3 separate regions of the Homo sapiens genome follow, and regions 1 and 3 are each linked to region 2. Evidence: fine-mapped expression QTL. A gene starts in region 2. Each other region holds a variant in brackets. All regions are shown on one strand. Distances are between the middles of the regions. Region 1 overlaps UBE2R2-AS1 (UBE2R2 antisense RNA 1). Region 2 holds the start of UBAP2 (ubiquitin associated protein 2). Region 3 overlaps UBE2R2 (ubiquitin conjugating enzyme E2 R2).

Region 1 (2,764 bases), 270 kb before region 2:
CTACTCTACTCGGGAGGCTGAGGCAGGAAAATGGCGTGAACCCGGGAGGCGGAGCTTGCAGTGAGCCGAGATCGCGCTACTGCACTCCACCCTGGGCGACAGAGCGAGACTGCGTCTCAAAAAAAAAAAAAAAAAGTAAGACTAGTTAAAGTAAAAACTTCATCATTGTATTATAGGATATATAAAATATATGTAATACAGAATGACACTAAAACTTAAAGGACGGGAGTAGGAAAAACATCTATTAGTTGCAAATTTCTTATATTTTAAGTAAACTTCTACAATACAGTAAGTAGACAAATAGTTTTAAATGTATCATTCTTTATTTTCCAGAATAGCCCTGAAAATATTAAAGAGGTATAGCAAAAAGCCAATAAATAAAAATCAAAACAGAATCCAAAAATATTATTCAAATATTTAAATAGAGTCTATTCTAGGAGCCAGTTTGGTCTAACATTAAAAAAATCAATCAATGTAACTCATCTTATTAACACATTTTAAAAAATCTATTTGATTATACCTACAGATAGAAAAAATTTGGTAAAATCCCAAACTCATTTATGATAAAAACACTCAGAAAATTAGGTTGAAAAAAGGGACTTCTTCAATCTAATAAAGGCACCTGAAAGAAACCAACAGCTTATGTCACACTTAATGAGAGAAATATTAAACGTCTTCCCATTTTTATTTCTTAAATACTAAACATGTTCAAGATCATAAAGAAGTCAATAATGTTCACTCTTAACCACTTCTATTCCATATTGTACTGATGCATAAAGACAAGAAAAATACTAAAAAGCTGAAGATCAAAGGATAAGGAAAACCTTTTTCAGAGATGAAAGGACTACTTACATCCAAATATTTAAAAAACTATACATTAACTACTCAAATTAATAAGTGCATACCTTAATTTATTATTACAACATATAAAAATTATATTTTGTATACTAATGGTAAACAATTGGATAATTCAATTTTAAAACCTAAATTTATATTAAAAACAAAATATTTAAATTTAGCAAAAGGCATGCAAGACTTGTATACAGAAAAATAAAAATAGTTGCTAAAGGAAATGAAAGACAGTTTTAAAATATAGAAGTATAAATCA[T/A]GTCCATGGATTGTTGCAGCCTCTGCCTCAGGAGTCCCCTGCAGCCTGGAACACCTAACAAAAGAAATGCAGGTGCAGTGCCAGGGATTGGAGGTGATTCCCCACAAGTCCTAGGAGCAAACCTTGTGAGGGGGCCATCTCTCTCCCCCACCCACCTCAGAGCATGCCTGTGAACAAGAAAGTACAAGAGCCACACAAGCTGGGTGTTAGCCTAGCTATCGGCCATTACTCTTAAGCGCCATCTACTGGATCACGGCACAAACTACCACACTAAAATTATCATGCTAATTATATATGCAAGATGTGAAACCAGGTGCAAGAATTCACCCACATATGCGGATTCTGTACAGAGCCCTGGCCCTCTGAAAGCATCCAGAAATGAATCCAACTGACCATACTCAACTTACCCCGCAGTTAAAGGAACACCAACCCTATCAGATGAGAAAGAATCAGCACAAGAACTCTGGCAATTCAAAAAACCACAGCATCCCCTTACATCCAAATGGATCACTAGCTCCCTAGAAATGGTTCTTAACCAGTCTGAAATAGCTGAAATGACAAACACAAAATTCAGAATCTGGATAGAAAGGAAGCTCATTGAGATTCAGAAGAAATTTGAAACTCAATCCAAGGAATCCAAGTAACCCGGTAAAATGATCCAAGAACTGAAAGATGAAATAGCCATTTTGAGAATCAGAATAAACTTCTAGAGCTCAAAAATTTACTACTAGAATTTAATAATGCAATTCTGCTGTAAATTCTGCTGTAAATTATTAATTAACAGCAGAACAGACCAAGCTGAGGAAAGAATCTCAGAGCTTGAAGATCAGTTCTTTGAATCAACTTAGATGAAAATTAAGACAAAAGAATTTAAAAAATGAACAAAACTGGCTGGGCGCGGTGGCTCACGCCTGTAATCCCAGCAGTCTGGGAGGCCGAGGCCGGCAGATCACGAGTTCAGGAGATCGAGACCATCCTGGCTAACATGGTGAAACCCCGTCTCTACTAAAAATATAAAAAAACTAGCCGGGCATGGTGGCAGGTACCTATAATCCCAGCTACTCGGGAGGCTGAGGCAGGAGAATGGCGTGAACCTGGGAGGTGGAGCTTGCGGTGAGCCGAGATAGCGCCACTGCACTCCAGCCTGGGTGACAGAGCGAGACTCTGTCTAAAAAAAAAAAAAAAAAAAAAAAAAAAAACCTCTAACAAATATAGGATTATGTAAAGATATAAAATCTATGACTCATTGGCATTCCTGAAATAGGAGGAGAAAGAGTAAGCAATTTCAAAAATGTATTTGAAAAACACCAAAAAAATTGCCTAATCTTGCCAGAGAGGTTGAAATTCAATTCCAAGAAATACAGAGAACCCTGGCTAGTTACTATATAAGACAACTATCCCCAAGACACATAGTCGTCAGATTCACCAAGGTCAAGGTAAAAGAAAAAAAAATTCTAAAGGCAGCTAGAGTGAAGGGTCAAGTCACATACAGAGGAAACCCCATCAGGCTAGCCACAGACTTCTCAGCAGAAAACTTATACGCCAGAAGAGATTGGGAGACTATTTTCAGCATCCTGAAAAAAATTTAACTAAAAATGTTATATCCTGTCAAATTAAACTTCATAAATGAAGGAGAAATAAAATCCTTTTTAGACA
Region 2 (2,764 bases):
CGGAAGAGGAATATAAGAACTGGGTTCACCCAAGAAATTATATGCCCTTCAAATAAAAGATAATCTTTGGATACCTTATGGAGACCTGAAAAAACCCTCAACTAGCTGAGCACCGTGGTGCACACTGTAATCCCAGATACTCAGGAGGCTGAGGTGAAAGAATCGCTTAAACCCAGGAGCTGGAGGCCAGCCTGGGCAACATATGGAGACCATATCTCTAAAATTAATAGTAATTTTTTAAAATCTCTCAACTGTTAGGATACACTGGTGCTGTAGAAAGACAATAAGCCTAAATACTGGCAAACCATATACCTTCCTTGAATGTGAGGTAAAAACAATATCCAATAGAAGTGGTAGTAAATGACTGGATTACATCAAACAGGAAATAACAGTAATAATGATGGGATCAACCCCTAAAGCGAGCAAGCATTAGAGACCAGAGTGGTGACAGTTGAGATGCGTGGGCAACTAATTAGACTAAAAACTCAGGGGAAAATGTGGAAAAGCCGAGTGGGAAAGTGATTCAGAGGCAAACAACTGAGTTGTAATGCACCAATGAAAGAATAACATTTTGAGTATGTATTATTAACAGAGAGAGCTTTGCCGTTTACAAAGCGCTCAAAAACCTACATTAAATAATGAACTGTGATATAACCAGACTACAGGAACGGCGGGTGTGGAGGAAAACTGAGTCCCAATTGAGACCAATGCCCTACAGAATTGAAAAGAAGTAGAACTGAACTGTGACTCCGGGTAAGCCAGGAAAGGTTAGAGAGCGCATAAGTTGGGGCTATAACAGGGCCAGTCCCAAGACTAGCTACGGGCGTGAAAGCGGAAAGGTGATGAGATGGGACCGACAGCGTGGCGGGGAAGCTCCAGTCTACTGGCAGGCACCGAGGTGGGAGAGAAAACCACACCCTCCAGGGCAGAAACCCGAAAGGGGGGAGGGGAGGCACCCCTGGGGCTGGGTGGGGCCCAGCCGACCTGGACGGGGGAAAGTAGGAAGAAGCACAGGGCAACGTGAGGGGAAGAGGAAGGAGGGAGCCCGGGCCTGGACGTAGAGGGACCGTGGACCTGGCGAGTGAAGCTCGGCCCGGTCCTCACGGGTGGGCGCCGGGGCAGTCTGCAGGCGGTGGGGTTTCAGACGAGCTGAACCCAGAATTAGAAAGCACACGCTGCAGCGCTCAGGGCCCTGGAAGAGGGAAGGAGAGGGAGAGGATGGCAATTACCGCTGCTGCTCTCGGAGGACCCAAGACCCGCTGCCGCCGCCGCCGCTCGTTACCTGCCAATGTGCCTCTTACAAAGCGGCGGCGGCGGCACAGGCTGCCCAACCCGTCACGTGACCTCGCGTCACGGGCGAAGGAGGAGCCACAACACGTCGCTCGTGCGCGGCTTCAGAGTCAGCCTAGGCGGCGCGCGGCCTCTTCCAGCCACCACCTCCACCCCAACCCCGCGAAGCCAACCGCGTGGAGGTGGGGACCACAGAAAGGAACAAATAAGGGAGACTTGATAATATGTATTGTACTCGGAGTCATCAGGAGAGTATTACCCACCGCATACAAGGTGCCCACAACTGCAGCTCGTCGTCGCGCCGTGATGACCTCACAAAGCACCACAGGTTACTCCCCTGTGGCCGCCCTGTGCTCATCACGTGATGTGGTCCAACCACTCAGGGCAAGCCTGGCCTCCCAAATGTTGCACGAGGGGACCACGACTCCCAACATGCTGCACAGCCAAGGCGACCCCTACCGCAGCCTTTCTCCAGCGGGCTTCTAGACGAACCCCCTAGAGACCTTAGAGCCGAGGGAAGGCCGGGACGGAAAGCGGACTAAGCTGGCTTGAAGGACTAATACCATTGGATGCCGCCCGCCATGTGGCGGAGCGTGGTGCCTGCTGGGAGGTGTAGTCCTGGCGGGGGGTGGGGTTCCGCTCCCACGTTCCTGGGCTCGCTCTGCGCCCTGCCCCCTGCGCGGGAAAACGCCAACGGCTAGCAGCGAGAGCCTCGGCAAGGCGGAAGGTGCGCCCACTTTTAGTCTTTTTCAGTGCGGTTTTACTTTTGCCCTCCCAAGCCCCTTCTGGGTGAAAAGACTAGAATCTACTGAACGCCTACTCCAAGTCAGCCGTTTATTTCTGTTATATCATATAATCAACTCCTTGAGTCCAGGATTTTCCCTATTTAAGGATTTAAAAAAAGAACCTTAGAGTTGTTTGTTGACCGAAGAGACCCAGGTTTTCTGTCTTTAGAAAATTAATGACCTCCTCTCAATAGGATCTGACCTGTTGTCAACTCCAAGAATTACGAATAAATAAGATGATGGTTTATAATTGTAGCATGGTGTTTTAAAGTATTTTCCATTTACTGGCCTGTTTGGATGTGAGGGCGTTCTGGCTATCTTGTCACCCCATAGATCGCCAGGGCTGATTCGGCTGATCTGGCTGTCTAGGCGGGTGGCCCCTTCCTCCCGCACCTCTCCATGTGCGTCCCTCCCGAAGCTGCATATTCGGTCGAAAAGGAGGAGCATCCCCCATAGAAGAGGACAAGTCAAGGATATAGGAGTAGCTGCACGCCCGTGTTAACAAGCTCTCAAGGTCCTCTAAACAAGCTCTCAAGGTCTACTTACTGGCCTGTTTTATCCCAAGCTAGTTACATACAAGGACTTTGCAGTCCCGGCATGCCTTATCTCAATTGGAGCTTTCCTCTGTAATAACACTTCACCGGCTTGTGAAAATTAAATGAGATTATGTAAAATGCCTGCTTGACACA
Region 3 (2,764 bases), 230 kb before region 2:
CTCTTCTCCCTTATTAAATGTTAGTCCTTGAACATTTAGTATAATTTATTTTCAAGTTAAACTCTTTTCCCTTTTTGGCATAGTCATTCGTGAAGGCAGTGGGACTGCCAGTCATTCTTTACATTTTTCATACTGTAATTCCTTTAACTTTTATATATTAATAGGTTTCTAACTGATCTTTTTCACCCTGAAATAGTTGGCTCTTGTCTCTTACCCACAGGATCTGCATTGGAGATTTGTGAGACCTGTATTTCACAGAATTTTTTTATTCATCCTGCTTTCGCTTATTTAATATCGCCAATCCACGTGATTCTTAGTTTTGGGCCATATAGATGTAGGATGGGCAAAGATAGTTTCTTCTGTCCATTCTGAATACTATACAATCTTTTTTGGCCTTACTATCTTTTTGTGTAGTTTCTTATTTTGCTACCTAAGCAAGTCGGAATTTTATTGTTACTAGAAAAATAAATTGTGGATCAAGTCAGTAGCTAATGAAGACTTTTAACAAGTTCACCCCCTTTCTTTTGAAAGGAACTTTTTCAGGGTCTTTCTCTGTCACTTAGTTTGGGGTACAGTGGTGTGATCATGGCTCACTGCAGCTTCCACATCCTAGGCTCAAGCAGTCCTCCCACCTCAGCCCCCTGAGTAGCTGGGACTACAGGCATGACTACGCCCGGCTAATTTTTTTTTCTTCAGTATTGTTAAGTGAGGTAGGGTCTCACTATTTTGTCCAGGCTGGTCTCAAACTCCTGGGTTCAAAGGATCCTCCTTTCTCAGCCACCCAAAGTGCTGGTTTTACAGGCGTCAGCCACCATGCCCGGCTGGAACTATCTTTTCAAATAACTCCTGCTAAGGATTGTAGCTTAGTGTGGGTGCTTTAGTACTGAACCTCCTTGGAACTTTTGCATTATTTATCTAAAGCATTATAGCAGTGAGTCTAGAGCCAGAAAGAGTGCCTCTTTTATGATATGCATAACAAAAAAAAATTTTTTTTTTTTTTGAGATGGAGTCTCACTCTTTTGCCAGGCTGGAGTGCAGTGGCACGATCTCAGCTCACTGCAACCTCTGCCTCCTGGGTTCAAGCGATTCTCTTGCCTCAGCCTCCCGAGTAGCTGGGATTACCGGCGTGCGCCATGAAACCTGGCTAATTCTTTTTGTATTTTTAGTAGAGACAGGGTTTCACCATGTTGGCCAGGCTGGTCTTGAACCCCTGACCTTAAGTGATCTGCCCATCTCAGCCTCCCAAAATGTAATCCTAATTAGAGGCCTGAGCCACCACTCCTGGCCAACCTTTTATAGTTTTGATTTTATTAAATAATTTGATTGAGGTAATGAAATATAGATGTGTTCCATTTTTAGAAAACTCCAGTCTGATAATTTAGAAAGTATTTGTTGTATACTTAAAGTTTTCCTTATTAGGAACATCTTTATTAGACTCAACACTGACATATATATATATATATTTTTTTTTTTTGAGACTGAGTTTTGCTCTTATTGCCCAGGCTGGAGTGCAGTGGAGCGATCT[C/T]GGCTCACTGCAACCTCCGCCTCCTGGGTTCAAGCGATTCTTCTGCCTCAGCCTCCTGAGTAGCTGGGATTACAGGCATGCGCCACCATGCCCAGCTAATTCTGTATTTTTGGTAGAGACGAGGTTTCTCCATGTTGGTTAGGCTGGTCTCAAACTCCTGACCTCAGGTGATCCCGCTCACCTCAGCCTCCCAAAGTGCTGGGATTACAGGCCTGAGCCACCACACCTGGCCTACACTGACTTACATTAAAGAAACTCTTCAAAACCTTTTTTTTTTTTTTTTAAGAGATAGGGTCTCACTTTGTTGCCCAGGCTGGAGTGCAGTGGTGTGATCATAGCTCACTGCAGCCTGAAACACTTGGGCTCAAGGGATCCTCTTGCCTCACCCTCCTGAGTAGCTGGGACTGCAGGTGCATACCACACTCGTTTTAATTTAAAAAAAAAATTGTTTATGCAGAAAGGGTCTCATAGGCCAGGCTGGTCTCGAACTCCTGGCTTCAAACAATCCTCCCACCTTGGCCTCCCAAAGTGCTGGTGTTACAGATGTGAGCTACCACACCCAGCCAAATAATTTTTTTTTTAATAAGAGAATATGCATTATTTCCTATGCTTCATTTGTTTTGCAATGAATGAATCTATTTTCTGCCTTCCCTCTTCCCCCTAAAAAAACAAACCAGACTTAGCCTAGATCTGGCAATGTCATTTAGATATTTTATTTCTTTTTTTTCTTTTTCTTCTTCTTATTAATTTTTTTTTTTTTTTTTTAGCTGAGTCTCGCTCTGTTGCTCAGGCTGGACTGCAGTGGTGTGATTTCGGCTCACTGCAACCTTTACCTCCTGTGTTCAAGCAGTTCTCGTGCCTCAGCCTCCCAAGTAGCTGGGATTACAGGCGTGCACCACCATGCCTGGCTAATTTTTGTAATTTTTAGTAGAGATGGGGTTTTGCCATGTTGGCCAGGCTGGTCTTGAACTCCTGGCCTCAAGTGATCTGCCCACCTTGGCCTCCCAAAGTGCTGGGATTACAGATGTGAGCCAGTGTGCCCAGCCTATTATTATTATTTTAGAGACAGAGTCTCGCTATGTTGTCCAGGCTTGTCTTGAACTCCTGGGCTCAAGTAATCCTCCCGCCTCAGCCTCCCAAAGCACTGCGATTATAGGTCTGAACCATTGCACCCAGCCTATTTTATGACTCTTTAATTGGTAAAATATAGTTGAAAAAAAATTTTTTTTTTTCCTAGAT

The links. PIP is the estimated chance that this variant, and not a neighbour inherited with it, causes the effect.
Region 1: its variant is the best candidate, but not a certain one, in a credible set for the expression of UBAP2 in whole blood (INTERVAL, PIP 0.90).
Region 3: its variant is the best candidate, but not a certain one, in a credible set for the expression of UBAP2 in whole blood (INTERVAL, PIP 0.85).

The regions. Positions count from the first base shown.
Region 1 is chr9:33,777,590-33,780,353 of GRCh38, forward strand. All of the region lies in intron 3 of UBE2R2-AS1 (UBE2R2 antisense RNA 1), which reads right to left. It also overlaps a transcript of PRSS3 not described here. Among named protein-coding and RNA genes, the nearest start is that of PRSS3, 17 kb to the right of the region's middle. RefSeq lists an enhancer at 1,494-1,553. The variant T/A (reference allele first, on the strand shown) is at 1,109.
Region 2 is chr9:34,047,596-34,050,359 of GRCh38, forward strand. UBAP2 (ubiquitin associated protein 2) reads right to left here and starts at 1,292. Exons shown (of 29, transcript NM_001370062.2): 1 at 1,230-1,292. It also overlaps the pseudogene RN7SKP114. RefSeq lists enhancers at 402-1,258, 1,259-2,114, 1,395-1,924, 2,115-2,764 and silencers at 1,075-1,124, 1,275-1,364.
Region 3 is chr9:33,820,635-33,823,398 of GRCh38, forward strand. The region is part of intron 1 of UBE2R2 (ubiquitin conjugating enzyme E2 R2); the gene reads left to right. Among named protein-coding and RNA genes, the nearest start is that of UBE2R2-AS1, 3.1 kb to the left of the region's middle. The variant C/T (reference allele first, on the strand shown) is at 1,526.